Linked DNA regions of Homo sapiens. The protein of the gene in region 1 interacts with the protein of each later gene in a biochemical or structural test. Each region holds a gene or a part of one and is shown in the gene's direction. Other genes may lie near its edges. The genes, in order: SNTB2, MAST2, DGKZ and UTRN.

Region 1 (7,830 bases):
GCCTCCTGAGTAGCTGGGACTACAAGTGCATGTCACCACGCCCAGCTAATTTTTGTATTTTTAGTAGAGATGGGGTTTCACCATGTTGCCCAGGATGGTCTGGATCTCCTGACCTCGTGATCCCCCCGCCTCGGCCTCCCAAAGCTCTGGGATTACAGGCATGAGCCATCATGTCCAGCCTGAAAATAATCTTTAAAGGAAAAATTATCAAGTAATCCCAATACCAATCTATCTCCATTAGCTACTTCCAGGGTTAAATATTTTGTTATATAACTTGCTGTCTTATGTAAGTGCCCTCACTATTAGTTAGCAGATCTGTGACTTACTCCAACTCTATTGGCAAAAAGGTCTTGATAGTCTTGCAGAGAATTCCCAGCACTTCCCTTCTGCTAATAAAGGTGTCCTCAAGTGCCCAACTCCTGGGTAATTACAAATGCAAAAGTGTTAAAAATAGCACTCATACTCTAAGGAATCAGCTGCGAAACACTCTCTAATAAGCAGAAATTTCACATAACTCAGGCCTCTGGGGGCTCACGCCTCAGCTGGAGCAGAGCCAGAACGTCTGTGACCGCAGGTGCACTTGGGCACATTGGGACCTGCTGGAACAGCAAGCTGGCCTCTGCAGTTGATTTAGGAGAGGGCTGGAGGGTTGAGCTTTTGCTGACATTTGCAGCTTGGAAAATCCGACTCCACTAATCGCAAAGAGGATTCTGCTGTAATGATTTTTTTTTTGGTAAGATACTTTTCTCATTTTGAATTCTTTCTTCATTTGGGCTCTGGACACTTCCCAGCCTCTACATTTATTATTTTAACTTCTGTTACAGGAGGCTCTTCAGAAGTTTCTGCCTGCACATGAACATGCATTCACAGAGTGGTGCACGGCCACGGTTTACGAGCCTCAACGTGCACTTCATGAGCAAGCAAGTTTACAGCCCCTTTTACAGGAATTGGTGCACATTCCCTCTGCTTGCCCCTGTCCCTGCCCACATGAAAACACAGGGATTTTTTGCTACTACTGCTGAAGAAAAGTTAGAGGACACCTTGACCTCATGATTTTGCTGAGCACTTGCTTTCTTAACAGTGTGCTTTCTGGACCCTTAGTTTATTTTTTATTTTTTTAATTTTTTTTTTTTTTGAGACAAACTCTTGCTCTGTCGCCCAGGCTGTAGTGCAGCGGTGCGATCTCGGCTCACTGCAACCTTTGCCTCCTGGGTTCAAGAGATTCTTGTGCCTCATTCTCCTGAGTAGCTGAGATAGGGGTGTGTACCACCACACCTGGCTAATTTTTTTTTTTTTTTTTTTTTGTATTTTTAGTAGAGATGGGGTTTCACCATGTTGGTCAGGCTGGTCTTGAACTCCTGACCTCAAATGATCTGCTTGCCTCACCCTCCCAAAGTTTTGGGATTATAGGCATGAGCCACTGTGCCCAGCTTGGACCCTTATTTTTGAGGTCTGAAGGGTACTGTATAGTGAAAATAACCCTGGATCCAGAGGCTGGTAGTCCTGAGTTGTCTCTGCCTCCTTCCTATGGACTTTGGGCCATGGTCTTTGGTCTTTGGCTCTCTGGCCCTCAGTTTTCTTAGCTCTTCTAGTCCATGAAGCTGGAGGAGGTGGGTGGGTTGTATCATTCATGTCTGAATAAAAGCCACTGCAGGCTCTGCAATGTGCACAGCAGTGGCTCATGGCCTTTGGTCAGGGAAACTTCCTGCCAATTGGATGAATCACAGGCTTCAAAAAAATACCTTAGAGACCAAATTTTGCATACAATTTTTGGGAATGCCCACGTACACTTGCCCCAACAAAAGGCCATGGCCTCCAGGCTAAGAAAGTCAGATCTGCGGCCAGGCACGGTGGCTCACGCCTGTAATCCCAGCACTTTGGGAGGCCGAGGCGGGTGGATCATGAGGTCAGGAGTTCAAGAACAGCCTGACCAACATGGTGAAACCCCACCTTTACTAAAATACAAAAATTAGCTGGTGTGATGGCACGCGCCTGTAATCCCAGCTACTCGGGAGGCTGAGGCAGGAGAATTGCTTGAAACTAGGAGGTGGAGGTTGCAGTGAGCTGAAATCAAGCCACTGCACTCCAGCCTGGGTGACAGAATGAGACTCCATCTCAAAAAAAAAAAAAAAAAAAGATCTATAAAGTCAAGTTCAAACTCCTCGATATTTTGTTATGCTTTTCAGCTGGGCGTGGTGGCTCATGCCTGTAATCCCAGCACTTTGGGAGGCCGAGGCGTGCAGATCACCTGAGGTCGGGAGTTCAAGACCAGCCTGGCCAACATGGAGAAACCTTGTCTCTACTAAAAAATACAAAATTAGCCAGGCGTGGTGGCACATGCCTATAATCCCAGCTACTCGGGAGTCTGAGGCAGGAGAATCGTTTGAACCTGGGAGGCAGAGGTTGCAGTGAGCCGAGATCGCGCCATTGCACTCCAGCCTGGGCAAAAAGAGTGAAACTCTTGTCTCAGAAAAAAAAAAAAGATGCTTTTCACACTCATATCCTCCCATTTCCACTGACCCTATGCTCTGTTCACATTGGAATTCTAGCATCTTCCTAAGTAACCATCTATGATGTTAATTTTGTGTCAACTTGACTGGGCTAAGGGATCCCCAGGTAACTAGTAAAACATAACCTCTGGGTATACCTGTGTGGGTGTTTCAGGAAGAGATTAGCATTTCCACGGTAGACTCTAAAGAAGATCACCCTCACCAATGTGGGCAGGCAGCATCCAGTCAGTTGAGGGCCTGAGCAAAACAAAGGGCAGAGGTAGGGGGAATTCATTCTCTGCCTGAGCTGGGACATCCATCTTCTCCTGCCCTCAGACTTTGGTGAACCTGGCTCTCGGGCCTTGGCAGTGGGATGGTGACTTACATCATTGTCCCCCCACCCCAACTCCCACCCTCACCCCCTTCTCAGACTTTCTGTTTTGAGACAGGGTCTTGCTTTGTCACCCGGGCTGGAGTACACTGGTGCGATCTCAGCTCACTGCAACCTCCACCTCCTGGGTTCAAGCAATTCTGCCTCAGCCTCCCGAGTAGCTGGAATTATAAGGGCCCACCACCATGCCTGGCTAATGTTTGTATTCTTAGTAGAGACGGGGGTTTCACCACATTGGCCAGGCTGGACTCGAACTCCTGACCTCAAGTGATCTGCCTGCCTCGGTCTCCCAAAGTGCTGGGATTACAAGCGTGAGTCACCGCGTGTGGCTCAGACTTTTTTTTTTTTTTTGGAGATGGAGTTTTGCTCTTGTTGCCCAGGCTGGAGTGCAGTGGTGCAATCTTGGCTCACTGCAACCTCTGCCTCCCGGATTCAAGCGATTCTCCTGCCTCAGCCTCCTGAGTAGCTGGGATTGCAGGCGCCTGCCACCACACCTGGCTAATTTTTTGTATTTTTAGTAGAGACGGGGTTTCACCATGTTGGCCAGACTGGTCTATAACTCTTGACCCCAGGTGATCCACCGCCTTGGCCTCCCAAAGTGCTGGGATTACAGGTGTAAGCCACTGCACCCGGCCCAGACTTTCTTTTTCTTTCTTTCTTTCTTTCTTTTTTTTTTTTTTTTTTTGAGGCAGAGTTTTGCTCTTGTTGCCCAGGCTGGAGTGCAATGGTGCCATCTCAGCTCACCGCAATCTCTGCCTCCCAGGTTCAAGCAATTCTCCTGCCTCAGCCTCCCAAGTAGCTGGGATTACAGGCATGTGCCACCACGCCCGGCTAATTTTTTGTATTTTTAGTAGAGATGGGGTTTCTCCATGTTGGTCAGGCTTGTCTCAAACTCGTGACCTCAGGTGATCCGCCCACCTCAGCCTCTCAAAGTGCTGGGATTAAAGGCTTGAGCCACCGCGCCCGGCCCAGACTTTCAATCTCAGGTTTATACCACTGATTCTGGGTCTCAGGCCTTTGGGCTTGGATTGGAAGTGCACCACCAACTTTCCTGGGCCTGCAGTTTGCAGATGGCAGATCGTGGGACTTCTCAGCATCCATAATCTCGTGGCCAGTCCCTTGTAATAATAATAAATTTATATATCTCTATATATCCTATTGGTTGGTTTCTCTGAAGAACCCTAAGACACCATCATTCTGCAAATATCCTTGAGGCCTGCCAATTGTGGCTTCAGGGTTTAAGAAGACATGGTTCCCTCTTGAATTACAGGCAAGTAAACGAGATTACAAAACATTGACAAAGGCTTGGATCATGCTGTTGGACCTTTGCTTGAGCTGTTCACCGTCCGTTGTTACCTCTGTGAAGCTGACCCCAGGCCTAACCAAATGTTCCTTTTATGCTGTTCTGGGGACGTCTTCTGCATGTCACTTAACCACATAGTATCACACCTAGTTGGTTGGTTCTGCATTTTCCTTCCCCACTAGACCGCAAACTCTCAGCTGTTGTTGGTACTATTGAGCTTAAGTACAGGGCCTCAAAAGGAGCCGGAGTACAGGGCTAAGCGCTCAGTACACAGGGTACGAACCAATCAATGCAAGAATGAACGTGCCACCGGGTCTTGCAGGCTTGAGAAGTGTTTCTCCAAGCTGATTTTGCTTTCCGTGCCCGGGCAGCTCCCGTGAATTGCACGGTAGAGGTCAGGAGTTTCTGGGGGGTCCGTGGGGAGCCAATGGAAGGATGAGGAGAAATGCAGTCCCACCGCATTCGGGTTGCCCACGTCCGGCGAGAGGCGAGTGATCGGACAACTTCTGCACCTCCCGGAAGCGGCTGCGCCGGCCCCGCCCCTCCAGAGGCAGGCGTGGCCTCATGAATAATGAATCGTGCGGGGGAGGGGCCGGGCCCGCCCCTCCGGGCGGGAAGAGGGAAGCGCCGAGGCTGCCTGACTGGAATGAGGGTAGCTGCGGCGACTGCGGCGGCTGGAGCGGGGCCGGCCATGGCGGTGTGGACGCGGGCCACCAAAGCGGGGCTGGTGGAGCTGCTCCTGAGGGAGCGCTGGGTCCGAGTGGTGGCCGAGCTGAGCGGGGAGAGCCTGAGCCTGACGGGCGACGCCGCCGCGGCCGAGCTGGAGCCCGCTCTGGGACCCGCGGCCGCCGCCTTCAACGGCCTCCCAAACGGCGGCGGCGCGGGCGACTCGCTGCCCGGGAGCCCAAGCCGCGGCCTGGGGCCCCCGAGCCCGCCGGCGCCGCCTCGGGGCCCCGCGGGTGAGGCGGGCGCGTCGCCGCCCGTGCGCCGGGTGCGGGTGGTGAAGCAAGAGGCGGGCGGCCTGGGCATCAGCATCAAGGGCGGCCGCGAGAACCGGATGCCGATCCTCATCTCCAAGATCTTCCCCGGGCTGGCTGCCGACCAGAGCCGGGCGCTGCGGCTGGGCGACGCCATCCTGTCGGTGAACGGCACCGACCTGCGCCAGGCCACCCACGACCAGGCCGTGCAGGCGCTGAAGCGCGCGGGCAAGGAGGTGCTGCTGGAGGGTGAGCGGGGCCGGGCGGGAGGGTGGGCAGGCCGCGGCGGCCTGGGCTCGCGGGAGCTCACTTTGTTCCTGCCCCGCCGGCGGGGCGAGCCGGTTCTCTCCCCGTCTCTCTCCAAACCCGGGTTTCTGGAGCTTTCAGTGTGGAAAAACGGATGCTTCTTGCAGGAAAAGTTGGGCAGCCGCCGAAGTGTGGCTTGCAGCCCCTAGGGAAGACTCGGCTGAGATTGAGTAAAAAGCAGCTGCCTATGAAGCCCCACCTCGGCCCGATAAGCTGACACTAAGAACTTGAGGGAGAGCGAACGGCTCGAGTGGGTCTGTCTCCGTTTGCCCGCTGAGAAGTGCCGGGTTGGCGCTTAACTCACTCACCTCTGGCTCCTCGGGGCGGGCGGGTCTATTAAAAAAAAAAAAAAGTCCATCTTCACCGATGCCAGCGGTATGCTCGGGCAAACCACCAAAGCGCTGGTTAATTTATGGGAATTTAACCCATCATTGGCTCTCAACAATAACCAAAGGAGATCATAGCATTTCATTGAAGCCAGAAAGCTGAAACAGCAAGTCTGTGTGGTTAACGAACCTTGTTTAACAGTGGAGGCTCACGTGTTTGAACATTTACTGCCAACTAGAGTTTTGCCCCTTTTGCAAGTCTGCTGCCAGCTTCCTACCACTCACAGGCGCGCTGCTTCAAGACTCTTGGGGTTTTTGTAAGAAACTTGAAATGGCAAATCACAAGATAGGTTTCAATAACCAGGATTATTCTTTACGTTAAGTTATATGTATGTGATCTGTAAGTTGGATCTTTCATGATGAATTTGAACTAAGGCAAAAATAAAATTCCTCTCCTCTAAGGACTCATGCATGTTGGAGGTGATAGAGTATTGTAAATTATAAACGAAAAGTCAGCTGCTTTCTTCAGAAATTTTTGAGCGGTCAGCTTTCTTTCACTGGTGATTATGGCTAGCTGTGTTGAAAAGAATATAAAAGAAGATGCTGTCCCTACTTGGTCTCTAGTTGGAGAAATGATAGAAAAATGCAAAACAACTTATAGGGAGGAAAGGAATGAAGTTGGTGATTACGTCGTGAAACTATACTTAAATGCCAAAGGAATGCAAAGTTAGAAAATAGTTAGTGGAGATGGAATTAGCCAGGGAGGACTTTTTCCCGAAGCTGAATCTTGAGCCAGGTCTCCAAGAAGTGATGGACATAGGCAGGCAGGGATGAGTCAGGAGGGTATTCCTGGCAGAGGAAGGACAGAAGGGAAGGGCTGGGGGCTGCTGGTGAAGAAGGACCAATCGTCAAACCGAGAGGCCAGAAGTCCAACTTGGCACAATGGATTTTCACTTTCTTATAAATCAGCTTGTGAATATTTGGAAAAATACTGATTTACCAGAAATGATTTCATGTACACCAGTTGTGAAGTTCCAGTGTCCCACCTTTATAATATCCTATTTATAAACCTTATTTATATTGCATGTCTAGGTGGGGCTAGACATTGCTCGGAAATTAGTGTTAATAGAAGGAGTAAAATTATAGATTGTGGTTTGGGTGTGTGTCCAAAAAAAACTGTTACTCTAAACGTGTACCTTGAAGTTGGTCTAGCTAAGCATTTGGTTATAAATTCTTACATCCAGAATATTGAATTTAGTACTATTTATGTAGTCCTCAGTTGTGATGGGCAGACAGTTGAACCTTGTACACCATATTTAGAAAAAAAACACAAAAAACCTTTTGGCCAGGCGTGGTGGCTCATGCCTATAATCCCAGCACTTTGGGAGGCCAAGGTGGGCAGATCACCTGAGGTCAGGAGAACATGACGAAACCTCGTCTCTACTAAAAATACGAAAATTAGCCAGGCGTGGTGGCAGATGCCTGTAATCCCAGCTCCTAGGGAGGCTGAGGCAGGGGAATCGTTTGAACCTCAGAGGTGGAGGCTGCAGTGAGCCAAGATCTCACCACTGCACTCCAGCATGGATGCCCAGCCTGGATGACAGAGCAAGACTCCATCTCAAAAACAAACAACCAACCTACTTTTTGTATAGGTATAGTTTGAACCTAGTATTCAGACCAGTAAAATGAAAACCTTGCAGTAAATGCTTCCCAGTCTTTATTGGGCTAAAATAGGCCACGTGTGCTTTTAGAAAGATGGCCGCATAATAACATGTTTATTGAATGCCTTTTTACCTAACATGCAGGTTCTACTTTATTTTCCCACTTTGTACAAGACAAGCAGTTTTTGTTCTTATAAGTAGTGAGGAAGTCAATATAGTAGATTTACGACATTGCATTTTCAAGCCACTGGGTGTAAAAATAAAATTACTCAAAATATGTAAAACCACTGAAAACAATGATTTAATTGAACCAGTCAAACATTATTTAAAATTGAGAGCTGGTGTCCCATCCAGGTAGGCCACTTTTAAAAGACAGA
Region 2 (7,020 bases), on another chromosome or scaffold:
TAAGAGTTCTATGGACCAGGGGGTCCCAGACCCTTCTCACTGATATGCATGCCCTTGCCCCCTTGTTCTGTGCATTAATTAAGGTGTGAGAGAAGGCAGTTTGGGTGGCAGAGAGCACAGCTCAGGTGCTGAGGGTCCATGGGGGATGGGCCGGACTTTGTTTCCCAGGGCTGTATTTCTGGTGCGGCACAAGTCCACCCGGCAGCGCTTTGCCATGAAGAAGATCAACAAGCAGAACCTGATCCTACGGAACCAGATCCAGCAGGCCTTCGTGGAGCGTGACATACTGACTTTCGCTGAGAACCCCTTTGTGGTCAGCATGTTCTGCTCCTTTGATACCAAGCGCCACTTGTGCATGGTGATGGAGTACGTTGAAGGTACTGAGGCAAAGGTGGCCTGGCATGGAGGCCAAGGCACAGTCTGAGACTTAGCCTTAAACAGGGACCAGCAGCTTTGTACAGAGGTGAAGTTTCAGGGCCCAGCTTTCCAGTCCACCTTTGGCATTGGTTTCTGCCTCAGGATCACAGAGACCATTTGGCCACAGTGGGCACAAAGCTCCCTGCCTCTACCATGAGAGGCATTCTGGGATAGGATGTAGCAGGCCAGCAGCTATAGAATCTTGCACCCCAAAGCCTGCACGCTCTCTACTGCTGGTATCAGACAGCAACAGAGGAGGCAGCAGAGCTACAAAAGCCCAGGATTAGGTGCTAGGAGGTTTGCATCTGGACCCTCAGAAGAAAGGAAAGCCATTAATTACCCTGACTGGCTTGCAAAGGGGACACCCCTTAAAACCAAGCAAAATGCTCTGAGAATAGAACAGAAGAGCAACATGGGGCATAGTTCTGGAGGGAGGCAGCAGCTTTGCCAGTTTCCCTTCCCTCTCACCTTCTCACTGTGTGTACAGCCTCCAAAGATACTGTGCCTAGTCTTGAAGCTGAAGCTGAACAAAACTGTCCTTTAGTGTTTACTGGGTACATGCTGGGAGTTCATAGTGTTACTTTACTCAGAAACTAAAAGCCAGTAAGAAGGAAGTAACATGAACAGATGTTAACATCTCAGCCAGATGTGTTTACAGTATGCAGTATTCCTGTCCTAAAAAACATTAGGCTGGTACAAAAGTAATTGCATGTTTGCCATTACTTTTAATAAAGGCCTGGGTTCCTTCCCTCTCTGGCCTGAAAAATGTCCATGACAGCTATTAGCAGATTCACTTTACTTTCCACCCCCCTCCATACCCTGTGTATTTTCATGCTGCTAATAAAGGCATACCAGAGACTGGGCAATTTACAAAAGAAAGAGGTTTAGTGGACTTACAGTTCCATGTGGCTGGGGAGGCCTCACAATCATGGCAGAAGGTGAAAGGCATGTCTCACATGGCAGCAGACAAGAGAGAGCTTGTGCAGGGAAGCTCCCCTTTATAAAACCATCAGATGGGCCGGACGTGGTGGCTCATGCCTGTAATCCCAGCACTTTGGGAGGCTGAGCCAGGTGGATCACCTGAGGTCAGGAATTTGAGACCAGCCTGACCAACATGGCGAAACCCCGTCTCTACAAAAAATGCAAAAATTAGCTGGGTGTGGTGGTGCACGCCTGTGATCCCAGCTACTCGGGAGGCTGAGGCAGGAGAATCGCTTGAACCTGGGAGGCAGAGGTTGCGGTGAGCTGATATCACACCACTGCACTCTAGCCTGGGTGACAGAGCAAGACTTTGCCTCAAAAAAATAAATAAATAAAAATAACCATCAGATCTCATGAGACTTATTCACTATCACGAGAATAGCATGGGAAAGACCCACTTCCATGATTCAGTTATCTCCCTCCAGGTCCCTTCCCACAACACATGGGAATTATGGGAGCTGCAATTCAAGATGAGCTATGGGTGGGGACACAGCCAAACCATATCACCCTGTCTCCCACCCATGCCAGCAGCAAAGGGGCTAGAATCAGAGTCTCCAGCACCAGGATATTCCATGAAGCTGTCTCCTCTGGGACCTCAGAAACTGCCAGATGGGAGCTGGCTAGCTAGAGCAGGGAACTGAATCCTTTCCTCATGGTAGCCTGGGCTTGTTGCAGGGGGAGACTGTGCCACTCTGCTGAAGAATATTGGGGCCCTGCCTGTGGACATGGTGCGTCTATACTTTGCGGAAACTGTGCTGGCCCTGGAGTACTTACACAACTATGGCATCGTGCACCGTGACCTCAAGCCTGACAAGTATGTCCACAGTCTGTGTCCCTTGTCCAGGGTCTCCCTCTTGGGTCTCCAGATAAAATGTTGGCAAGCACAGTAGCTCTAAATCTATCCAGATGGCTACCGGGAAAACATGCTCCTGTGTGTGTCCATCTGGGCCTAGTTCTCTAGCCCCCCGACCACCCCAGATGCAGATCATTGCCTCAAGGTCTGGCTGGAACACTATAAGGCTTCGGTGACATGGAAGAGTCATTGAGGAGCCCCACTGAAGAAACCAAGCAAGAACAAAAGAATAAGCACATCTAGTAGATGGCTAAACAAGTGTCCTGACGTTTACTGACATCTACTCTGTGCCAGCACTATATTGTGGGTTTTTAAATGTAGTCCCTGGCATGTAGAACTTAAGTCTACAGTGGGAGACAGAAATATATGTATATAGGCTTCTTCTCAGAGGGTATTAGTCAAGTGGAAAAAGGAAGACCTGCTTTCTAAAGCAGGAGAGCAGAATGTGCAGAGTCACACAGGTGCAAGAGAACAGCACTTGTTCAGGAACTACAAATAGTGCAATATGGCGACAGCTTAGATGGTGAGAGAGTAGTAAGAGAAAAGGCTAGAGAGAGAGGCAGGAACTAGTTCATCAAGGGCCCTTTTGTTATATTTGGGTTTTATTCTAAAGGGGCCTAGAGAGTCTTGGAAGGGTCTGCTAACCAAAGATATGATAGAATGGCATGCCCAGATTATGGTTCAGGTTTAGAAAGCTCACTCTGCCGGTGAAAAGAGACACTGAGACCACTGCCAAAGAGATACCGAGACCAGGGAAAGACAGCAATGCCTGCAGCAGAACAGGGAGTCAGGATAGAAAGAAGAGGGGTAGTGTGGGGAAGTATAAAGGAAAGAGGATCAGGCTGGGGTGGGGGTAGGAAGGGAAGTGAGGGAACAGAAGAGGCTGGGATGTGTTCCAGATTTCCAGCTTGGGACTGGTGCAGGGTGATAAGCCTCTGTGGAAGAAAGTGGCTTTGACATAAGACAGACCTGAATTCAAATGGCCACTCTTCTGCTTATTAAGTCTGAGTTTGAGTCTACTAATTAAAGTTTCCCTGACCCTCACGTTCCTCCTTTCTAATATAGGGAATAATTACACCTACCTTTGATGTGTTACTCTAGAAAACATTTCAGGGGCCAGAATATTTTTAAAGCACTTAGCACAGAGCTCAACAGATAACCAAAATTATTGTTTTTCACTGAGGAGGGGAACCAGTTGGGAGGCATGACTTTGTTTTGGACAGGTTGAGTTTCTGGAGCCTGTAAGACACATGGGCAGTTGGGTAGGCCTGGAGCTCAAAAAGGAAGTCAGAGCCAGAGGTACTATTTGGGGAATCATTAGAATAAAAGGGTGGCAGGGTAAAGCCTTCAGCACAAAATGAGTGGCTCAGGCAGAGTATATAAAGGGATCTTAGTTCTAGTTTCTCCCAACTAACCCTCCTCCCAAGACCAGCCATGGACATGGAACAAAATTATGTGTGCCCCCTGCCCCTCTCCCTGAAACAGGAGTATTATGGGCCACTCAGATTGGGAGAGGGGACTAGGAATGGCTCCAGCAGCTGCCTTAGGATGAGGCTGATCTCAGCTCTGTAGAAGAAACTCTGTTCCTCAACTGAATGACTCCTGCCCCCAACATAGAATACAGTTAGGGCAATAAGCAGAAATGGAGTTGTGGGAATGGGCAAAAGGCAGGTTCGTTGCTTGTGCAGAATGCAGCACTCACACAGCCAGAGCGATTTACGTGTCCACACCTGCCTGTCCCCCCAGCTGAAGCTACCCAGCTTGTGTCTCACAGTACCCCCATGGAAGCCTGAGTGGGGAAACTGGGCATATACTAAAATCAGTACTCTCAGAAAACCAGGAATAACTTCTTAATTTTATTTCTTCGTTCTTCCAGCCTCCTAATTACATCCATGGGGCACATCAAGCTCACGGACTTTGGACTGTCCAAAATTGGCCTCATGAGTCTGACAACGAACTTGTATGAGGGTCATATTGAAAAGGATGCCCGGGAATTCCTGGACAAGCAGGTAAGGAAGGGTAGTTGATACACTGGGGGTTAAATTCTAGGCCCTTGTCCTGGCGCAGTGTCTTACGCCCGTAATCCCAACCCTTTGGGAGGCTGAGGCAGGAGGATCGCTTGAGGCCAGCCTGGGCAACATAGTGAGACCCCATCTCTACATTTGTGTACACATACATAGATTCCAGGCCCTAGAATAAGGCCTTGGGGCCATATGCCTACCTTGTAGCTAGATGTTAAGATTGGGAACCCCTATCTTTTCTACCTTTGGGTTCCAGAGAGGCACTGAGATAGGTAGCACATTTGGAAAACAGGATGAGCCTTGAGAATCATATGGATATAAAATCCAAAGTCATCTTCCTCCTCAGGGTTTGGGGAAAATAGGTCATATAACTGTTAGCACAGAGTTTCATATGAGATCAGTCCTGAATCTCCCAGCCTGAATCAAGGGCAAGGCTCTCCTGGAGCCTGAGGTTCTTGGAACACAGCTCTGAATTTCCATTGGGCTGTGGCCCAGTGTCCTGAGAGGCAGCCTCTGGATGTTCCCTGGTTTGACATTTCAGGTTGTGACTGTTCACCGGTCCCTGTAGTTGTTACATGACTGATAGGGTCTGTTTTGTTAGAGGCTGGAGTGCAGAGGCCCATTGTGGGATCACATGCCAGAGGTGGGTGTTGAGGGCTTAAGGGATGGTAGTTCCGGGCTAGAATGAGACATTTTTGTTAATTAGGAAATACCTACTGACAGTTCCGACTCTTGTTCCCTGGGGCTTCTGTTGATCTTGTTCATTAACTAAGGTGGGCTGAGTCTTCATTCAGAGATTCTTCTGCTCGAGATGGGAGCATCCCCCATCTCCGGCTGTCATGCCAGTCAGCAGCCTCAGGAGGCTGAGCCAGCCTGGCTTTTCTGTGCCCAGGTATGCGGGACCCCAGAATACATTGCGCCTGAGGTGATCCTGCGCCAGGGCTATGGGAAGCCAGTGGACTGGTGGGCCATGGGCATTATCCTGTATGAGTTCCTGGTGGGCTGCGTCCCTTTTTTTGGAGATACTCCGGAGGAGCTCTTTGGGCAGGTGATCAGTGGTAGGTACTATGCCCCTGGCCCAGTGGGGAAACAGAGTCTGAATCCACAAATATGATGTATGCAGGCAGCTCGTGAGGCCTGTGAGCTCTTGTTCTGAACTCATCATGTGTGTTTGTGATGTCTGCTGCTTTGGGGATGGGTGTCTCTGTGTTTCTGCATGTACATACATGTGCACACTGTGTCCCTTGGGGCTTCACATGTCTCTCATAGACACCTGGTCTCTCATATACACCTGGGTGTTCCTGTCTGTGTATGTGCACATCCCATAAGTGTGAGGGGTACGTCTGTGTATGTTTTGTGGAGTATAAAAGCAGGGTGAGCTAGAGCTTTGCAGTGCCTGCTGTGGATCAAAGATCAAGCTATGGTCTAGGAACCTATAGAATTTAAGGACTGGGGTCCCAGGCAAGGCTTTCAGGGGCTCCAGGCTGGGTCCTTTTTGCCTCCTTTCCTTTCACTGTTCTGGGACCCTCTTCTGCATCTCTCCACTCTACCCACAATTTCTCCTTTCCCTCTCACCCCTGATGACTTCAGATGAGATTGTGTGGCCTGAGGGTGATGAGGCACTGCCCCCAGACGCCCAGGACCTCACCTCCAAACTGCTCCACCAGAACCCTCTGGAGAGACTTGGCACAGGTAGGGCAGGCCCTGCTAACTTTTCTCACTACTTGGAAAAGGGGTAAGGGAGGCTGAGTCATGTACCCTGGAGGTTCAGGCTTCGGTTACGGGCAGCCCCTCTGGATCCTGAAACTCTGCCCTGCTCTGTAGGCAGAAAAGGGAAGATGCTTGAGCTGATCCCCTAGGTATAGCTTCTGAAGGTCTGGCTTCTTGCTAGATTTGCTGACCTAGACTCCATGCTGCTCATCCTACCCCCTTGCCCATGTCCTCCCTGTCCACAGGCAGTGCCTATGAGGTGAAGCAGCACCCATTCTTTACTGGTCTGGACTGGACAGGACTTCTCCGCCAGAAGGCTGAATTTATTCCTCAGTTGGAGTCAGAGGATGATACTAGCTATTTTGACAGTAAGGCCACCGATGGGTGGGGTGGAGGATGGGTCCTACCTGTTTGCCTAGAAACACCTGTGCACACTGAAATTGCATTGGGAGCAACTTCTCAGGGCTCTGCTGAAATCTAATGGGGTCACAAGGAGGCCACCAGCAGGGCTCTGAAGGAAAGTGTCCTTTATGTCTGGCCCAGCCCGCTCAGAGCGATACCACCACATGGACTCGGAGGATGAGGAAGAAGTGAGTGAGGATGGCTGCCTTGAGATCCGCCAGTTCTCTTCCTGCTCTCCAAGGTTCAACAAGGTGTGACTGAGGAGGCCCAGAATGGGCAGAACAGGCTGGAGGATCAGAAGAAGAGGGCCTGTCAAAGGGCACACCTGGGGCAGGCTCAGGGAGTTGGGGTTGGGGCCACCTCTAGAAAAAGAGGAGCTAAGGGTTGGGGCTACATATAGCTATATATAGGTGCTTCTAGAACCACTGCTGTCCCTGACATGAGATGCCAGGTCAGATCAGTGGAATAACTCCTTCCCCAAATATTCAGCAGGGGTGTGTGAAGGAGGGATGGAACCGACTGGTTCAAATTCCTAGGTTTCCGATGCCAAGGATGCTTTATGCCACTTGGGAGGTACGGCTGCCAGAGCCCATCCCCAGCGCATCCCCTGTGCCCACAGGTGTACAGCAGCATGGA
Region 3 (7,582 bases), on another chromosome or scaffold:
AAGGCGGGCAGATCACTTGAGGTCAGGAATTCAAGACCAGCCTGGTCAACATGGTGAAACTCCGTCTCTACTAAAAATACAAAAATTAGCTGGGCATGGTAGCGCACGCCTGTGATCCAAGCTACTCTGGGGGTTGAGGCACAAGAATCGCTTGAACCTGGGAGGCAGAGGATGTAGTAAGCAGAGATCACGCCACTACACTCCAGCCTGGGTGACAGAGTGAGGCTCAGTCTCAAAAAAAAACAAAAAAAAAGCAAAAAAAGGAGGAAAATAACAAGATCTACCTCCTAGAGTCATTAAGAGGATTCAAAGAGCTACGTTACATATTCAGTAAGATTTTTGGCACAGAAATGTTCAGGAACTATTAGCCATTGTTTTATGATTACTGAGTATTAATTATTAATTGCATAGCATGCATTTATTAAACAAATATTTACTGAAAAATATTATGTTCCCATCATGAGGGACACAAAGGTGATTACAGCACCAGATGGAGGTTTTTAAGGGTCGGGATAGCATCTTGAAGGGTTCTGTAGCATAAATGTTTACTGAACTGAACTGATGCTGTTTCTGTCCTCAAGAAATTCACAGTAACAAACACATATACAACTAAAGAACTAGTTATAGAGCAGGGCGATTAAAGAATGCTTGAGGAAGGTACAGTTTCCTTCCTAGAACCAGTCCTAAGAATAAAGAGTGAATATATGCCCTAGTATTTATTTACCAAATCCTCACAATGGCCTTGAACTCCAGCACAGTTTGGCCTCTGGAGATCTTTCCAGCTCCTAACGCATTCCCCCTGGCTCCCTGTTCTCTGGCCATGCTGGCCTTTTTGCAATTCTCCAGACACAAATACATTCTTTGTTCCATGCCTTTGCTCTGACTCTACTTCCACCTAGAATGCTATTCTCCCAGGTAAGTCACATAGCTCACGCTCCCCATTCATTCAGGTCTGCTCTCAAATATCACCTCCCCAGAGAGGCCCTCCCTGATCCCCTCCCCCTGCCTAAGTCACTCTCATCACTCTTCTCCCTTCCTTTGGCTTCATTTTTCTTTATAGCACATCTTTTTTTTTTTTTAGACAGAGTCTCATTCTGTTGCCCAGGCTAGAGTGCAGTGGTGTGATTTCAGCTTACTGCAAACTCCGCCTCCCGAATTCAAACGATTCTCCTGCCTCAGCCTCCAGAGTAGCTGGGATTACGGATGTCCACCACCACACCCAGCTAGTTTTTGTACTTTTAGTAGACAGGGGGTTTCACCATGTTGGCCAGGCTAGTCTCAAACTCCTGACCTCAAGTAACCCACCAGCCTCAGCCTCCCAATCTTTATGGCACATCTTGTTTGCTGACATTATATTGTACATAGATTGTTTGTTTCCTGAATGTCTTCCCCACTAGAATCTAAGCTCTGTGAGGACAGAGCCCTGCTTCCTTGTTTTTAGAGCTATGTTCTCCGATACGGTGCCTGATGCACAGAAGGCATTCAATAAGTATTTATTGAATGAATTAATTTGTCAACCTTCCTATCTCTTCTTTATTCCTCAGATAACACCATGAGCTCAATTTTTTTTTTTTTTTTTTGGAGACAGTGTCTCACTCTTGTCACCCAGGCTGGAGTGCAGTGGCGCGAACTCGGCTCATCACAACCTCCACCTCCCAGGTTCAAGCGATTCTCCTGCCTCAGCCTCCCAAGTAGCTGTGATTACAGGCACCTGCCACCACGCCGGGCTAATTTTTGTATTTTTAGTAGAAATGGGGTTTCACCATGTTGGCCAGACTGGTCTCAAACTCCTGAGCTCAGGTGATCTGCCCACCTCGGCCTCCCAAAGTGTTGGGATTACAGGTGTGAGCCACCATGCCTGGCCTATTACTCCACTTTACAGATGAGAAAACTGAGGCTCAGAAAATCTCCCTGGCACATGTATTCATTAGTTTATTTGTTTATAGGCTACCTTGTCCCAAAAGTTATTTAGAGGACTCCGAGAGGTTTATGACCTGATCCAGGCCACACAGAGCTGGTAAGAGGCAGAACAGGACACATGCTCATGTCTCCAGGCTCCATCCTCATTGCTCATTTCTCTACACCACCTTCCTGTATGCCCAGCCCTGTGTAAGATGGTATGCTGCACACAGAAGTGCTAGGAAGAGAGCGCTCTTTGAGGGCTGGGCACACCCAGCCATTGTACCTGGTGGTTGTCATAAAGCGGGAGACCTCAGCAGGACCAAGAGTTGAAAATCAGACAGTTTAAATGGAGAGGAAAACCAGACAGGAGCCCAGGTGCAGATTCCAGCCCAAGCAAGCCCCATGGCTGCCTCCTGGCTGCTGGTCTGGGCTTGTCCCCACCTGCCCCTTGCTTTCTTGTGCAGCTCTTCACGGCAGCTGGCCCCAGCCAGCGGAAGGCGCCTATGAGCCCTGAGCCTGTGGTCCTCAGCTTGGGCGGCCAGCGGCCTCTAGCAGGCCCCCCCCTCGACCCCACCCCCGTCAGGAAGTGCCGAAAGAGGAAGAGAGTCGCCGGGCAGGATGAGCGCACCGGGGGCTGGCCACAGTGCCGGGGGAAGCTGCAATGAATCCTCAGCTCTGGGCCCAGTGGAGGCGCTGGGGACGGAAGAAGGGGAGCGGCCGGGGTCACTGAGGCAGATGTGGCGCTACCGCTCCTGGGACGTGCCACAGATCCCATCAGAGGCACCCCAGACACAGTAGGTACAAGGGGTGGCCTGGGAGTGGGCATGGGACCTCTGTCCCTCTATGAGCCTTTTATCTGAGATGGGGGTGACAGAAGTAGGGTCACCCATCTGTCATCCAGCACTCTGCAGAGGCACAGAGTAGGGCAAAGGAGTTATTGGCAGGGTGCAGGGAGCTCTGATGTTTGGACTGTGTGGAGGAACTGAGCTCGAGAGAGGCCAGGAGTTGAGCAAGCTAGCAGTGGGGGGATCTGGGAAGAGGAGCCCCCCCAGGAGTGTGGCACTGGATGCTGGAGATTTCTGACCCAGCTGCAAGGCCTTGTGGAGACTCCGTGGGGTCTTCAGTTGCCTCTGATCTCTTCTCTCAGAGCTTGGAGTAAGAGCCATTGGGAAACTTCCCCAAAAGGACCCATGCACCCCAGAGGCCAGTTGTCAGGCATACTTGGGGATTGATCTGCCCTCCTCCTGGCCACCCTGGCACCAGCTGCTGGCTGGAGGGCTGGAGCCCCACCTCCCTGATCAGACCTTCTCCCAACTTGCAGGAAACTGGGAGAGGGTTCTGGGCCTCGGGGTGCTGGTTCTTCCTCAAAATCACAGGCTTGTCCGCAGGTCACAGCCCTAAGCATTGGCTATTTGCGGCTGACTAAGGCTGGAAAACGGGCTGCCAGAACCCAAGAGGGGAGGATGAAAGCGAAGGTGACACAGGATGTGGCTTGGCAGAGAGGCGTGCACACAGAAGTAGTGGGCAGCTGGTGTGGGCAGCAGGGTGGTAGGGTTTGGGGAGGTGGAAGACCATGCTTCCCAGCTCCTGGCCTCCCTTCGTCAGCCCTGCGGGGGCCATCAGAAACAGCCCCGGTGTGTGTGATGGCTGTGCCCCTACAGGTGACTGCTTGGGTTCCAATTGCTCTCATTTCTGGAGGGGGACGGCCTCGGCTGCATTGTGGGGTGTCTTTGTGTGTGCATGTGAGGTATATTTCTGGATGGGAGTGTGTGCATATGCACACACATACATATGTGTGAGGGATGTGGCAACCGGTAACCATTGTCCTGGGAGTATTTGTATGTAGGAGAAAGGTGTGTGTTCTGTGTGGGCATGTGTGCTTGTGAATGGGAGTGTGGTACCTGTTGTCCTTCTGTGTATTTGTGAGTGTGTAAGGGCTGTGCAGGTGATTCCCGTAGCATATGAGATCTATAGGTTCTGTTGAATACTATGTCAGGAAAATGCGATGTGTTGGGCCTGGGTGAGAAGGTTGGAAACCATTGTGAATAGCTGTGGAAGGATGACTTTGTAGGAGAAACTTGTGAGTTCTTTGTTGGTGTGTGTGCGAGTCATTAAGTGACTTTGGTCACTGAGTGCGAGAGGCTGGGGTGGGAAGTGTTCGTTTAAGTAATGAGTGGGCATAATTGTGTAAGGGATGTGTTTGTTCTGCGTGCATGGGGAGCACTGTGTGACTTTTGTTCCCCTGGGTGCGATTTGGGGGAGCCAAGGAGGTATGGGTGGAGATTGTGAGTGGCTATGAGTAGGGTGTGCGAGAGCGGAGGGGAGGTGGTGACAGCAGCCCTCGCGAGTGTACACTTGTGAGCGTGCAGTTGTTTGGTAGCGGAGGGATCGGGGGAGGAAAGATGCGCGTCTGGATGCGCGCAGTGCGAGTGTGCCAGGCCGGGAGATTCAGTCCCATCCAGGCGGGCCGGGCCGGGCTGGGGGCAGGGCTTTCTGCTGCCCCGCCCATTCGTCGCCCCGCCCCTCGGACCGCCCCAGCGGGCTGCAGCGCAGCGGGCGTCCGGCAGAGGGCGCTGCGGGCCCGGTGCCACCGTGCGGCCGAGGGGGCGTGCTCGGCGGCGGGCAGGCAGCGGCCCGGCCAGCTATGCGGGGTCCTGCGGCCGCGGCTGGCGGCACTTCCTGGAGCGGCGGCGGCAGCGGCTTCCCGGGCACCTGGGCGTGGGGAGCGGGGGCGCGCGGCGCGGGGCGGGCGGAGCGAGCGCGCGCCATGGAGGTGGCGGGCGGCGCGGAGCGGGCGTGCTGAGCCCCGGCCGCCGGCCCGGCATGGGCGTCTCCCGCGGGCCCTCCGCCGGCCGGGGCTAGGGCCGGATGGAGCCGCGGGACGGTAGCCCCGAGGCCCGGAGCAGCGACTCCGAGTCGGCTTCCGCCTCGTCCAGCGGCTCCGAGCGCGACGCCGGTCCCGAGCCGGACAAGGCGCCGCGGCGACTCAACAAGCGGCGCTTCCCGGGGCTGCGGCTCTTCGGGCACAGGTGAGCGGGGCGGCGGCGGGGCAGGCACCGAGGCACCGGCAGGTTACCGCTCCCTCACCGGGGGACATTCCTCGGCCACTGGGGGTCCGGGCCACTTCGGTACTGACACTGAGTCGGGGAGAGGCTGGCACCGGCGGCACGAGCCGTCTTGGCGTGGGCACCCACTGGGAGTCATCCCCCAGGGCCGGGACACGGGCGGGATCGGTCGGCTTGGCACTGTCACCGGGTGGGGGTCATTCCCTGGCACCGGCAGTCTAGTGCGCCTCATGTGTAGTACCGTGGGAGGATCGGCTCCCAACCCTCCAGCAGGAAGATGGAATCACCCCAGCCCCCGGCACAAGCAGGTTGGGCCCCCAGGACTGGTCACCCACGCCTTCTTGGCACTGATAGAACAGGGCCTCTCTGAGCCTCCTGGCACCACTGAGGTGGGGATCACACCGCCCTTTGGACTTTCGTGGGACCAGGTTGCCTACCATCACTGCGTGGCATCTGCAGAACGTAGCCCCGTTGATACCGTCACCACACATGGCTTGTCCCCAAGCTCTGGTCACTGGTTTAATTGTTTAACATGTTAAGCTTCTCCTTGGGGTTGGGGGTGCCTGATCATCTGCCCTACCTTGCTCTTAATTAGCAGAGAGACCCCAGCCCATCCCTCTGCTAGGCAGGCAGCATGTCTCCCTCTACCCTCTTCCAGCCCATGCTGGGAAAGGGATGGGGTGGGCTGGAGTCTGGAATCTGCTGGCTGTTCAAGCTTCATCTTGCCCCCTCCCCCAGCACTCCAAATGTCACCATCTTGTGCCTGTGACAGAGCTTTGACCAGGACTCTAGCGGGGAACCGGGGGGAGAGTGTGGAAAGACTGAGTGCAGGCAGTTCATGGCAAGTGTGCTGCTCTTGGTCGTGAGCCGCTGCCTGCCCTGGTAGCCGTGGTGTAAGGTAAGGGACGTGAGGCCCCAGGAGTACCTGACCTGGCTCCCTGCGCTTCTTCCTGACCGAGCCTTGCCCTTCCCTGGTGGCCAAGGAGCTTGTAGCCAATCAGCCAAGGACCCCAGAGCCACCTCAGACTGAACTCTGACCACTTGGAGTCTGCCCAAGGCCTCCCTCTCACTTTTCTGCAGCTGCCTAGACTTGGTGGCATTCACCCCCACCCCGCCCCTTAGCTTTGCTCTGCCCCTTCCCTGGGTAGACTTTACCCACCAATAACATGGGCGGTTTTCTCCTGTCGTGTGGGCTAGCATACCCGTGATGCTGACTTGTGCCCTCTACCCGTCTCACCCGGGCTAGGGCCCACTCTTTGCACCTGCACTCTGTCTCTGAGCACATGCACAGATCTGAATTCTTACACTGGCAGATGGAGCTCCGTGGGCTCCTGTGTTACCACGCAGGCTTCAATGTCATATAAAACAGAGCAGGGAGTGAAACTTCCAGTAGCTCTGTTTTGTCACCCACAGCCCTGCAAGATGGAGCAGTTTACACCCAGCTCTGCAGGATGTAGCCTCCAGTATTCACAGGCTCCGCAGGGGGAGGGAGGGGCGCCACCAGAGGCTTCCTGTTGCTGCCCACAGGGTATCAAGTGTTGGGTTCTTCTGACCTGTGGCTGTGCCCCTTCTGAAGGGCACAGGTTTGTGGGTATAGGGATGAGCACATTCGGGAGGAAGAACAAGAAACCAGAGAACCAACAGATACCTTTATGTAATTCTCTAAAATAAGCAGGGTAGGTGGTATTCTTCCTTTTGTAAAACAAAAAAAAACCAATTTTTTGTAGAGATGAGATCTCACACAGCATTGCCCAGCCTGGTCTTGAATTCCTGACCTCAAGCAGTCCTCCCACCTCGGACTCCCAAAGTGCTGGGATTATAGGTGTGAGCCACCACACCTGGCCTGTTTCTCCATTTTTATAGATGAAAGAAACACAGTCAGAGGGGATTTGCTCAGAGTCACATAGCAAGGAAGAGGTAGAGATAAGGTTTGAAGTCAAGTTGGTGTGATTCCAAAATCCACATCCCTTTCTCTATACCAGGATCCCAAACGGAACATCACAATGGCCAAGGGAGCTTTAAGAAATACAGATTCCTAGATCTTCCCTTGGCGTGTCTGACCCATCAGGTCTGGAGGTGGGGCCTGGGCATTGTTTGAAGCTTCCCAGGTGATTCTCATGTCCCATCAAGTTTGAGAAGCACAGTAGTCCGTCACGCTGGGGAGTGTAAGTGCTCTTATAGGATGCCTGATGAGAGGAAAGAAAATTCAGCAGCACCTCTGGAAGCATGTAAGGAGTGTCCTTTGTTTGGGAGCACTGTGCTGGGGATAGTGGGGCCTTCAGAAATGAATACATTCAGAGAACCCAGTAGTATCAGGCAGAGAGCAGCAAGGGAAAGCACTTTCTCCTGGCAGGCCTGGGAGCTCACTGGGGCTGGCCTCCTTCCCTTTGACTTGATGGGGCCAAGGGGTGGGTGCTGGGGGCAGACATGTGGAAGGGTGGAATAGTACACCTGCTCTGGGTTCTGCCCCCTCCAATGCTGCTTGGCTGGTCCTGCTACCTTTGTTTGTTTGTTGCAGCCTCAGGTAAAAGTCCTCGAAGCCCCAGCTGAAACCAGCCCTTCATCTTATCCCAGCTCCATGCTAGCTCTTAACCTAGCTCTTGCTTCTCCCCAGT
Region 4 (7,107 bases), on another chromosome or scaffold:
TTCCTCAGAACTGGGCCATGCTTCCTACCACCTGTGCAGGTTAAATTGCCAGGAATAGTCCTAGGGTTTTACCAATTGTAGGTAACCTCCAGGGTGGTCCGAATCGAATGAAACACTTGAATTCAAAGAGATAAAGCTAATCACGGGTATTTCATAATTATGATTGATTCAGTATGGATTTTTTTTTGGTAGGGCAATTTCTTGACCCCTCCAATCATCCAAAGTGGCCTATTTAAGGCCAGCACCCCAGGGCACAGGGGCTCAAAGTGTGGCTCCTCAGCTATTCTGATCTAAAGCTAAGGCATGTTAAACCTGCAGCTTCCTGGGCCCCACCAGGCCTAGTCAATCAGAATTTCTGGGGAATGGCAATCAATCTGAATTTAAAATATATTCTCTGGGTAATTCTTGAGTGCATTAAGTTGTAAGGAACTCAGCCTTTGTACTATTTATTTTCTAAAAGTTTCATGTGCTATTATTTTTTGTTTCTTCAATTCTATTACAAAAATTTATATGATAAAATTTTATCAACTCGCACACATACTAGACGTTTGACTGAAGAATTTACCAACAATACTCAGCAAAAATCCAGTATCTATTACACACAAGCTCCAGATTTATACTTTTTTTACCTGAAAAATATAAGAAAGGCTAAATTCCCTAAACTTTCCTCCTCTCTTAAATGCTTGTATGTGGGGCTTTAATTATAGTCAATACCAAAGGTAAAGCTAAAGGAGTGTCTTGTTTTTTTATACATTGTGTATTTTCCCCTGTTTCTACTGTTTAAAGAAAAACTGCATTTATATAGTCTTGCACAAAGTTTAGTAGCAAATGTTTTCCTTTTGGTTCTTATATTAGGATGCAGTTCCCTGTATGGGAATAATATTTATGTGAATCATGTCTATATACACTATACACACATATACATATATCTTTATATATGAATCTATATATACACTACTCATATCATAATTTTCTCCTTTGTCAAAGGCTTTCTATCCTGCAGTGACACTAACTCCATTTTCCTTAATTTTCACAGTTCTGTGGTGACAGCAGGGCAATTCTGACTTTGGGTTACCAGTAGACCCAGGGCCACATTCCTATTATTCTCTCCAGATGTTCTACAGCGATCTGATCTTTGGGATGAGCAGACAAAACCCCACTGAGCATCCTTGTTGCAGGCCCATTACCTTAGAGGCCTGTCTCCACCGTGCCTCACCTAGATTCTCTGGATATAAAGGAAGATCACACTGTGCTTTATGGAAATATAGCCCTCTGTGGTCAAGATCGCCCACCAAATGTGGTTTCCCTACCAAATAAAGAAAGTGTTGGGGGACAGGACCAGCACAGGACCAGCTTGAGATCTCTTGATCGTTCCATCAACAAGAATTCCGCCCTCCCTCCCTCCCTTCCTCTTCCTTCCCTCCCTCCCTCCTTTATTTCTCTCTTTCTCTCTTTCTTTCTTTCTGACAGTCTTGCTCTGTCACCCAGGCTGGAGTGTAGTAGCGCCATCTTGGCTCACTGCAACGTCTGCCCCGGGGTTTAAGCGATTCTCATGCCTCAGCCTCCTGAGTAGCTGGGATTATAGGCATGTGCCACCACGCCCAGCTAATTTTTGTATTTTTAGTAGAGACAGAGTTTCTCCATGTTGGCCAGGCTGATCTCGAACTCCTGACCTCAGATGATCCACCTGTCTCGACCTCCCAAAGTGCTGGGATCACAGGTGTGAGCCACTGCACCCAGTCAACAAGAATTTCTTTAGCCTCTTTTGCTCATTACCTACAAAGAGCATCAGTCTCTGCCTGGAGAGAAGGGCTAGAAACAGATAGGGCACAGGTCCCCAGGTAACTGGCTGTAAGCCACTATGGCTGATATGCGGGGCAGGTCACTCCTGCACAGAAGGTGGCTTGTTGGCCTCCTGTTCCATCTCTTACAGGCGTTGAGGAAGCTCGACTAAACATCTCCTCACAGCTTACAATCCCAGAAATCATAGGACCCTAAACGTGCGTTTTTCAAAATTTTTGAGCTAAAATGATGTATTACTTTGTAAATTGTGAAAAGTGTCACAAATATTAATTTAAGTGACAACATCATCAAACACTCCAATGTGGCCTTATTATCTATTTTGAAGGAGAAAATCTGAGTTTCATCAACTCAACCAGGATACAGTGAGTGATAAGCAACTTTTGGTGTCTGCAAAATGATCAGTTAAAAAAAACCTGGGGGCTGGGCACGGTGGCTCATGCCTGTAATCCCAGCACTTTGGGAGGCCCCGTCTCTACTAAAAATACAAAAAATTAGCAGGGCGTGGTGGTGGGCGCCTGTAGTCCCAGCTACTAGGGAGGCTGAGGCAGGAGAATGGCGTGAACCCAGGAGGCGGAGCTTGCAGTGAGCGAGATCGCGCCACTGCACTGCAGCCTGGGCAACTGAGAGAGACACTGTCAAAAAAAAAAAAAAAAGAAAGAAAGAAAGAAAGAAAAAATCCTGGAGTCCCTCTATGTGACCATACTCAGCTAGCACTTGATCTGTTCTTTTCTTATGGCATTTATCTCCCGGATCTTGTATATACTTACTTGTTTACATGTCTTATCTCACCTACTACATTCCAAGTTCTTTAAGGGTAAGATCACTATCAGATTTATCTTTGCTTTACCCACAGAACCAGCAAACCTGACAGCCCTAAACTGATGCTTGTTAAATGAATGAATGAAGTGAATGAATAAAATCATACCCATTTCAAGTTAATCCTTTGGATTTTATTTGGCTTATACGTAGAAAATCATCAAAAGGAAGGAAACTGTCCTAGAAACCTTACAAGGAAGAGTCTCTTTTGGGAATCTCCTACCTGCCCCCTCCCTGGAGCACTTAGGGATGGATGGGGGAAACTTTCACTATAACAAAAGGCGAGTAAACTCTTTCTGAAAATTAGTTTAAGGCCCCTAGTGGTTTAATCTTTACTGCCGCGTAAATTAACTCAAATATTAAGCCAGCAATAAACCGGCGCTCCAGTATCAACCATCCTTTTCTCTGTTAATACGAACTAGGAACTCAGGTTGCTGTTTTCTTTCCCCTCCCACGTGTGCTGATCGTGTAAAAGAATCACAGGAACACACGAGCAATGAAATGTGTAAATAAGAAAAATGCACACACATCACGAGCTCATTTCTTCCCAGATATTTTTTGGTCAACCTCTCAAGCTTGGAACAGGCTCTATAACAGATGTGCGTTTGTGTGTGCATATTGGAAAACAGAAAAATAAGGTCAGCGCAAACACTACTTGTAATACAAACTAATGTAAGAGAAAACTTCTTTTTCAATATTAACAACGACACTAGAGAAATAATGTAAAATAAATATACGGTTGGAACTAGGGGTAAAAAAAAAATCAGCAACGTCAGCAAACTGAGATGGGGTGAGTTGGAAGGCAGATTGGAATTTATCTCTTAAAAAAATATCACCCTAACTAGAGACCTGTTTTGCCTAAGGGGACGTGACTCACATTTTCGGATAATCTGAATAAGGGGAATTGTGTCTGCTCGAGGCATCCATTCTGGTTCGGTCTCCGGACTCCCGGCTCCCGGCACGCACGGTTCACTCTGGAGCGCGCGCCCCAGGCCAGCCAAGCGCCGAGCCGGGCTGCTGCGGGCTGGGAGGGCGCGCAGGGCCGGCGCTGATTGACGGGGCGCGCAGTCAGGTGACTTGGGGCGCCAAGTTCCCGACGCGGTGGCCGCGGTGACCGCCGAGGCCCGGCAGACGCTGACCCGGGAACGTAGTGGGGCTGATCTTCCGGAACAAAGTTGCTGGGCCGGCGGCGGCGGGGCGAGAGCGCCGAGGGGGAGCCGGAGCGCTGCAGAGGCGCGGGCCGGAGGGCTGGCGCTGATCTGCACCCTTCTCATCTGGAGAGCGGACCCCTGGCTGCCCGGAGGCGAGCCCCTTCCCGGGGGGTGGGGGCGGCAACGCGCGACCCAGCGGTCCTGCGCCCCACCCTCCCTCCTCCGCCTCCAGCGCTCGGCTCCAACAAAGGGGCAGGCCCGCAGCGGGGAGGAGGAGGAGGAGCCGCCGAAGGAGCGAGCCTCTCTCGCGCACAAAGTTGTGGAGTCGTTTTTCCTCGGAGCAGGGAAGCGGGCAGCAGCAGCCGGCCGCGGGCTTTCTCCCGCCGAGGGGCGAGGAGGAGCCTCTGGCTCCAGAAGCCGATTGGGGAATCACGGGGAGCGGCGCCCCCCTTCTTTTGGGTCATTTCTGCAAACGGAAAACTCTGTAGCGTTTGGCAAAGTTGGTGCCTGCGCGCCCCTTCCAGGTTTGCGCTTTGACTGTTTTGTTTTTGGCGGAACTACCAGGCAGGAAGATTGCACAAGTAAGGGGCGTTTTCAGTCGGGTGTCAATTTCTCTTTCTTTCTTTCTTTTTTTAAAATTTCGGTTCGTGTCTGCTTCTCCAAGCTTTATTTTTTTTTTTAAATACATCGCACCACCAAACTAACACTCGCACACACCCCCGCGGTTACTCCGTGTCAAACTCCTAGAGGAGCCCTTGGCCAGCTCGGGGTGCGGCGGTGGCGACCGGCAGGCGAGGAGGCCCGCGGGCAGCAGGTAAGCCCATGCATTATTGAAGCCTCGGGCTGGTAATGTGACTACAGCCCCCGAGGGAATGGGGCGGGGGCCGGGAGGAGGATGGCTCTTTCTGTGGTTCTTCCGCCTGGGATCGGCGTCCCGAGCTGCTTCCCAAGTCCCAGAGTCGAAGATGGGAGTAACTTTTGCGTGCCCTTTCCTCGGGGCCTCAGTTTAGCTCCCCGCGGTGCGAGAGAGAATGCCGGAGGCGTGGAGAGCTCGGGCGTGGAGGTCCTTGGGATCCGTACTAGTTGTGAACGATCCAAACTTATCTGACCAGCTCTGTGCTGCCTCCCTGCTCCCCTAATCTTCCTCCCCGCCGGGGTGACAGAGTCGCCCTCCGTGCATCGCGCGGTGCAGGGCGCTGGGCCAGTGATTTGCAAGAGGGGACGTGGCCTCTTAGGAGAGTCTGTCACAGACACCCGGGCCCGGGGAAGGCGGGGCTCCGGCGGTGTCCACAGGAGAGGGTGGGCAGAGGGTGGCTGTGTGGTCGGCGGCCAGCGGAGCGCTTCCCAGCCAGCCGCCCGGCGGGGAACGTGCTTGACCTCTGGGTGGTTGCTGCTCCCAAGGGTGGGGCTCCGGAGAGTGTGGCGCGATCGCCAAGCTCCCTGGCAGCGGCCCTGGAGAGACTGAGGGGACAGGAGGAGGGGGGCGCCCCATTGGTGTGTAGTCCCGCGCAGTCGCCGGCTCTCCTTTTCCGGACTCTGGGGATCTCTTGCTGCAACTGACAAGGTAATTCATGCCCCGCTTTGGCCCGGGGTCCGAGGCTGTGGTTGCTCAAGGCCACTTAAAAACCAACAAAGCACCAATTGAAGGCTGTGCAACTTTCAGATGGCAGGTTGTTCAAAGGATTTTTTCCTCCAAGCCTCAGATTATGAAAGGGACTCATTCCAGTGCGTTTTTCGAGGAGGAGGGAGAAAACGTTGCCCGACCTCCGAGAGAGCTGTGGGACCAGCACTTTATTTTACAAGGAACTGCAGAGCTCGGGTTCTAACTCCACGGCCCCGCTCTCTGAGGTGTTCAGGACAGGGCCTCCTCTTTCCCAGCCTTCAGGTCAGCCGGATCACCAGGGCCTTGCGGGCCAGTTCCCCCTGCCGCGGTTGGGAGGGTCAGTGCAGCGGTCGCCGCGGCCAGAGCGCGCGGAGCTCGGGGGAGGCCGGATTCCCTAGGTCTGAGCCGACCCTCCCGGCCGCCCGGCCGGGCGGCAGCGACCGCATCCATTCCTTTGTAAGTTGCACCGGCCTCAGGAAGTCGATCTGGGCCCTCCCGGTTCGTTGGCGGTGGGCGTGGGAGACGCAGCCTGCGGATAGCTCAGGGTCAGGGGAGAGGTGGAGGAATGCGAAGCTTGTGGGTAGTTCTGCGGTGACGGACAGGGTTGGCGTGGAACCATTCCCCGCCCCTTTTACCAGCCTTTATGGGACCGATGAGACAACTCTTTAACTCTCCTTTGGGTGTTTACCTAAAATTTATTGGCTCTGTAAACAGTATTAATCACAGTAGTATTAACCTTCCCTGGAGCGCTTCCGAGTGTAAATGGCAGTTCTTGGCACTCACCGTTTTCTTTTACTGTGTTTCAAGCAGAGCAGCAAACTCTTGTCCGCTTGGCTTCCTTTTCTACTATCTCAATCGTTCCTAGGTTTTGGTTCCTATAGTAAATTAATGAATAGTGTTTGCATTACACAGCATTTCCATCATAATGCACACTGTTGGATATATATGTGCTATATACATAAAATATAGTACAAAATAAAAATTATATACATATATTCATTGTATAATTCCTAAAATCTTAAAAAATTGAAACATTAGTTTTGTCTTTAAGGCTGTCACCTTATGTTTATTTTTTAAACACCTTATGTTTATTTCATACACTCTTGCTTGGTGGTCCATATGACAGCCGGAAGCGTTCTGAAGGGAGAGTTAGTGAATATCGACTTGACTGGATTGGTTTCAGTAAGAACATCTGGCTTTTACAGAATATCATTTGAGGGAAGGGAAATCTAGGGCAGAGGTAACAATAAATTGCATTTGTATAGGGCTTGAAGCTTCTAAAGCAACATCTCATTCATTGATTCTCAGTTTCTCACCTAGCCTTCTGTGAAGATGGTGTTCCCTCCATTTTATAGGTGTGGAAGACGGAGGGTCACACTGGGATGCATTGTTCGTGGTGAAACTTTGATTCTGTCTCCTGAGAACCAAAGATTCTGCATTTGGCAATTAGAAGGAGTCATCCTTTGCCTTAAGTGTACTCAAATTCCTCTGGCCATTAATGGCAAGTAACCTCAGTGGCTATCACTATTTAAATAGCCTTCTGTTATTCTTCTTTCTCCCCATTTTCCTCTGTACTCTGATCACCTTTTCTGCTGTATCTTTGCAACCTGTAAGGGATTTTCATTATCAAGAAGAGAAAAATTTGAAAAATCACCTTGAGGAGAGTGGCAAGTGAAACATTATAGTGAAGAAGTGTTACTGATAATGGGCAAATGGAATAAAGTAGTGTGTAAA

Evidence for each region.
Region 2: the proteins of SNTB2 (region 1) and MAST2 form a complex in vitro, tested with the Homo sapiens proteins (one study listed by BioGRID).
Region 3: the proteins of SNTB2 (region 1) and DGKZ form a complex in vitro, tested with the Homo sapiens proteins (2 studies listed by BioGRID and IntAct, with this or other methods).
Region 4: the proteins of SNTB2 (region 1) and UTRN interact in a test that uses a peptide from one of them, tested with the Homo sapiens proteins (one study listed by BioGRID).

Annotation. Positions count from the first base shown.
Region 1 is NC_000016.10:69,182,338-69,190,167, forward strand, and holds the start of SNTB2 (beta-2-syntrophin), read left to right. Parts: upstream 1-4,826; 5' UTR 4,827-4,829; coding exon 4,830-5,409; intron 5,410-7,830. UniProt on the Homo sapiens protein: Adapter protein that binds to and probably organizes the subcellular localization of a variety of membrane proteins. May link various receptors to the actin cytoskeleton and the dystrophin glycoprotein complex.
Region 2 is NC_000001.11:46,023,604-46,030,623, forward strand, and holds part of MAST2 (microtubule-associated serine/threonine-protein kinase 2), read left to right. Parts: intron 1-168; coding exon 169-377; intron 378-2,073; coding exon 2,074-2,212; intron 2,213-4,127; coding exon 4,128-4,260; intron 4,261-5,164; coding exon 5,165-5,330; intron 5,331-5,862; coding exon 5,863-5,964; intron 5,965-6,227; coding exon 6,228-6,350; intron 6,351-6,525; coding exon 6,526-6,635; intron 6,636-7,003; coding exon 7,004-7,020. UniProt on the Homo sapiens protein: Appears to link the dystrophin/utrophin network with microtubule filaments via the syntrophins. Phosphorylation of DMD or UTRN may modulate their affinities for associated proteins. Functions in a multi-protein complex in spermatid maturation.
Region 3 is NC_000011.10:46,342,890-46,350,471, forward strand, and holds the start of DGKZ (diacylglycerol kinase zeta), read left to right. Parts: upstream 1-4,573; 5' UTR 4,574-4,770; coding exon 4,771-4,931; intron 4,932-7,582. UniProt on the Homo sapiens protein: Diacylglycerol kinase that converts diacylglycerol/DAG into phosphatidic acid/phosphatidate/PA and regulates the respective levels of these two bioactive lipids.
Region 4 is NC_000006.12:144,281,238-144,288,344, forward strand, and holds the start of UTRN (utrophin), read left to right. Parts: upstream 1-4,097; 5' UTR 4,098-4,584; intron 4,585-5,260; exon of another isoform or gene 5,261-5,433; coding exon of another isoform or gene 5,434-6,042; exon of another isoform or gene 6,043-6,717; intron 6,718-7,107. Other genes in the region: uncharacterized protein LOC124901418, read left to right, coding at 5,434-6,042.